2 separate regions of the Homo sapiens genome follow, and region 2 is linked to region 1. The links come from fine-mapping of genetic effects on gene expression. Tissue or cell type: whole blood. Region 1 holds a variant in brackets; the other region holds the start of a gene. All regions are shown on one strand. Distances are from middle to middle.

Region 1 (2,500 bases):
TGGTGCTCCTCCAGGCTGTTTTCCATCAACACGTGTCAGCCTCATGCCCACCTTTCCCAACTCCTTGGCAGAGGAGACCACGCCTTTCATGACTTGACCCATCCAAAGTGACCCCTGGCTCTGGCAAATGGGGAAAGGCTCATGGGTGACCCATGTGTGACTTCCTGTGGCTTCACCTCTGCCACCACTGTCTGCTTGCCCTCAGGGTGTGTTGACAAGTTTGTCCCAACCAGCATTTCTGTAGTGGTGACTGTCAGGTGCCTCCCATAAACCAGCCACAGTGAGGACAAGTAAATAACTGCCAACCAGGAGTCTACCTAATGGGCAGGCTCCTTCTCCACCCAGCTCACTCTGCCTCTGCCCACTGATTGTCCTCAAATCTGTGCTGGGGGGAAGGAGGGTATAACTGTTACCTCGATGACCCCCAAGAACACAAAATAGTTATAAAGGAGTTGCCTGCGTGAAGCACAATATACCATCTTTTAATTTTCACAAATCAAATGGTTCCAGCCTCCTCTTAACTCTCTCCTCTCTCCTTTCTCCCACTTGCTCTAGGCATAGGCAGCAGAGCATAGCAATTGAGAATAGAAACCCCTGGGTTTAGCCAAATTACCTGAGTTTAGGTTCCCCATCCTGGTACTGGCTACCTGACCTTGGACAAATGTCTTAGCCTCTCTGTGTTTTAGCATTCTCCTTTGTAAAACGGGATTTGCTGGGAAGGTTCAATGAGTTTATTAAATATAATAAACACACACAGACATACATATAGATAATTAAATGCCCTCTATTATTGTTATTATTTTAGAGACAGGGTCTCACTCTGTTGCCCAGGCTGGAGTGCAGTGGTGCAATCATGGTTCCCTGCAGCCTAGAACTCCTGGGCTCAAGCAATCCTCCCACTTCAGCCTCCTAAGTTGCTGGGACTATGAATGTGTGCCATCACACCTGGCTAATTTAAAATAAAATATTTTTAGAGAGGGGGCCTTGCTCTGTTGCCCAGGCTGGTCTCGAATTCCTGGCCTCAAGCAATCCTCATGCCTTGGCTTCTGAAAGTGCTGAGATTTCAGGCATGAGCCACTGTGCCTCTATTGTTAGTTATATTAGTGTTATTATATTTATTAAGACTTTATTCCTCCACTACAGTATAAGCTCCACTAGGGCAAATACTGTGTTTGGGTTGTTCAGTTCTCTATCCCAGAACCTAGTACAGTGCATGACAGTTTATAGATGCTGAGTAAATTATTATGGAACAAATAATGGATGGAAAGAAGGAAGGAGGACCAGAGAGAGAGAGAGAAGGAGGGAGGGAGAAAGAAAGAAGAGGAAGACATGGAGGGCGGAGAGAGAGTCTTAGACTTGATCTTGATTTTGAGCTTTGCACCAACTCACTGA[C/T]GATTCTGGACAAGTTAGTTTCGTTTGATAATCTTTCTCCCCTGTTCTTCTTCCCTTCTCCCCACCCCTGCTCTGACAAAGTCTGCCTGATTCTGACCTGCCTCACGGACCAGTTTTCCATAATCCTGAGAAGGACTCTGATGACCCATTTAGAACAGGTCCTGCCGAGGATGATAGGGCAGTCCCAAGGGCTGATCACACCCAGGGCCCGATGAGCTCAATTAATGGGGCTGGGTTTATTCAGATGAGGGTTTGGGGCAGCTGAGGTGCTTACAGAAGTCACCTGGGTGTCACTTCTGAGTCAGCCTTGAGCTCACTTATGCTGCAGGCAGAGTGAACATGTGAGCTCGGAGAGCCAGGGGTGCAGATGCAGATGGGGGTTGGCTAATTTGGGCTTGATATGGGGAGTGTGCAGAGGGGGTTAGTTCGTTCCAGGCCTCTTCTAAGTGAAACAAATCCTGCAGCTTCCTCTTTCTGCTCTCTCTGGGCTAGCCCATCCTCAGAAGTCATTGATGGAGTGGGTGTGGTGGTTCACTCCTGTAATCTCAGCACTTTGAGAGACCAAAGTGGCAGCACCACTTGAGCTCAGGAGTTTGAGACCAGCCTGAGTAACATAGCGAGACCCCATCTCTTAAAAAATAAAAAATTTTAGCTGGATGTGGTGGCATGTGCCTATAGTCCCAGCTACTCAGGAGGCTGCAGTAGGAGAATTGCTTGAGCCCAGGAGGTCGGGGCTGCAGGGAGCTATGATTGCACCACTGCACTCCAGCTTGGGTGACAGAGTGAGACCCTGCCTCCAAAAAAAAAAAAAAAAAAAGAAAAGGCCAGGTACTGTGGCTCACACCTGTAATCCAAGCACTTTGGGAGGCCAAGGCGGGTGGATCACCTGAGGTCAGGAGTTCAAGACCAGCCTGGCCAAGCATGGTGAAATCCTGTCTCTACTAAAAACACAAAAAAATTAGCCTGGCGCTGTGGTACACCCCTGTAGTCCCAGCTACTCGGGAGGATTGTTAGAACCTGGGAGGTGGAGGTTGCAGTGAGCCGAGATCGCACCACTGCATCCCAGCCTGGGCAACAAGAGCGAAACTCCATCTCAAAAAAGGAAAAA
Region 2 (2,500 bases), 38 kb after region 1:
GCATTCACATTTTAGTGTGAATAATCAGATGGCTTTCTTCCTGGTGTCCAGATAAGAATTTTGACTAAGAGGAGAGTGGAGCCGATTAGGGACAGTGCAGAGCACCCTGGAGATGTCATCATAGAGCCCTACTTACATTGGGGAGGGAGGTCAAAGGTAAAAACCATTTACTTTGAAACGTGGTGTAAGGTGGCCTTCATGTTTTAAAAAGGAGGAAGGGCTCTCCCTTCTCTGATTTCTCTCTTCTGCCTCAGGACTCAGACTAGCCCTTTTAGCAGAGGGGAGCCTATAGAGAGGAGGTCATATACTAGTTGATTTTGGACTAAAGGCATCCCAAAGATGTACTATTTTTTGCTCCCTGCACTATTTTTTTTTTAATGGAACCAACGTTTAAAAATAGGATTTCTGCCTTCTCTTAAAACATCAGATGATCTGGTAACGCTGAGCTCCTGTTCTCACATGGGAACAACTGGCTGGAGCTGAGTGGCAGCCACCTCTTTAGAAAGATGTTAATTTGAAGTCTGCTATAGTCCCCATCATTCCTTATATTTCCCCCAACACTGAGACCCAAGTCACTTGAAAGTCAATATGATGATTCAAACACCAGGATTCTTCACTCATTTGTGGGTTTGTGACCTGTGATATTTGTGGATTCGTGACCTTTGGTTTAGAGGTCAAGTATAGGGGTTGTAAATAAAACTTGGGTTTGAATCAGATAAGAACTGTACCAATCTCAAAGACGGTGAATTAAAGATTAAAGAAAATATTGCATGCTTGGCATAATGTGTGGAACACAACAGCTATTGTAAACACCCAGTAGGAATGTAAGCTGCAAGAGGGCAGGTAGAAACCGTGCTAATTTAATCCGCTGGGGATATGACATTTGATTCTAATTTAATAGGTTTAATTCTTTGCAATATCCCCAGTAACTGCTGAATGAATGAGTGAGTGAATGAATGAATGGAATGATGAATGATGGGAGAGCCCGGAGGAGTTTTAAAGGCTGGAATGAAAAGGAAAGTAGTTATGATAACAGCGTTTCGCTGGGACTCCAAGGTGCAGCCAGGAAGAAAAGCCCGCTGGGACGTGCCAGGGTCTGTGACTGCGCTCCGCTGGCACCCAGAGGGTAGGTATCTGCAACGTCCCTTGGGAGCCAGACAGGGCTGACTTGCCCAGGACCTGTCAGGGCCATGTCCACCAGCTCTTGCACGGTCTGGTAACTGACAGCATCCTGATTCCTGCACGTTCCCGCCTCTGCCATCTGACCAGCAAAGACAGAGACCCACCCCGGGGATCCACCATCCAACGGGAGCCCAGCCTTTTCCTCCAAGCCGGGACGGCGCCCACACTAGACATGGCCTCCCTCGGGCTTCACGCAGCAGGACCGCGCCCGCAGCCTCCAGGCATCGCGTCCGGCTGGAGAGGCAGCTACCGTCCCACAGTGAACATGGCGGCCGAGGCGGCTTCAGCGCCGGGCGGGCGGCGCCGGGAGGCACGTCACGTGAGCGGCTCAGCTGGGCGGACCGCGCGCGCGCCCGCTGGCCCCGCCGGCCGCCGCTCGCTCGCTGGCTCGGCTGCGCTTTGAGGTGTGTGGGGCGTCGAGCCCCCGGGCCCGGTGAGGCGCGGCGCTGCGGGATGCGGCGGCGGCCGTGGCGGGGCCGCGGGCCGGGCGGGCGGGCGCGGTGATGAGTGTCTGCGGCCGCCGCCATGTCCAAGGTAACGGCGCCTGGGTCCGGGCCGCCGGCGGCGGCGAGCGGGAAGGAGAAGCGCTCCTTCAGCAAGCGGCTGTTTCGGAGCGGCCGCGCTGGCGGCGGCGGCGCGGGGGGCCCCGGGGCGTCCGGGCCGGCCGCGCCTTCCTCGCCCTCCTCGCCCTCCTCTGCACGCTCGGTGGGCAGCTTCATGAGCCGCGTTCTCAAGACGCTGTCCACGCTCTCGCACCTTAGCTCTGAGGGCGCCGCCCCAGACCGCGGCGGCCTCCGCAGCTGCTTCCCGCCCGGGCCGGCCGCCGCGCCCACGCCGCCGCCGTGCCCGCCGCCGCCCGCCTCTCCCGCGCCGCCCGCTTGCGCCGCCGAGCCGGTGCCCGGCGTGGCGGGGCTCCGCAACCACGGCAACACGTGCTTCATGAACGCCACGCTGCAGTGCCTCAGCAACACCGAGCTCTTCGCCGAGTACCTGGCGCTGGGCCAGTACCGGGCGGGGCGGCCCGAGCCCTCGCCTGACCCGGAGCAGCCTGCGGGCCGCGGCGCGCAGGGCCAGGGCGAGGTCACTGAGCAGCTGGCGCACCTGGTGCGGGCCCTCTGGACCCTGGAGTACACCCCGCAGCACAGCCGCGACTTCAAGGTGAGCCCGCGCGCCGCCGCGCCCCCACTGCACCCCGAGCCCCTGGGGCACCTGCCCGCCCAGGTCTTCCTTCCCTCGGTTCCTCTTGGCCCGGCAGGCTTCTGCATTGGTTGCTCCGAGTGGTCTGGGCAGTCGACCAGTGATTTTAAGGAGATTCATT

What was found. PIP is the estimated chance that this variant, and not a neighbour inherited with it, causes the effect.
Region 2: USP31 starts here. The variant in region 1 is fine-mapped to the expression of USP31 in whole blood (GTEx, PIP above 0.99).

The regions. Positions count from the first base shown.
Region 1 is chr16:23,186,816-23,189,315 of GRCh38, reverse strand. All of the region lies in intron 2 of SCNN1G (sodium channel epithelial 1 subunit gamma), which reads right to left. Among named protein-coding and RNA genes, the nearest start is that of SCNN1G, 5.3 kb to the right of the region's middle. The variant C/T (reference allele first, on the strand shown) is at 1,393.
Region 2 is chr16:23,148,478-23,150,977 of GRCh38, reverse strand. USP31 (ubiquitin specific peptidase 31) reads left to right here and starts at 1,526. Exons shown (of 16, transcript NM_020718.4): 1 at 1,526-2,340. The coding sequence starts at 1,708. RefSeq lists an enhancer at 1,126-1,345 and silencers at 1,526-1,625, 1,776-1,825, 1,926-2,025, 2,156-2,385.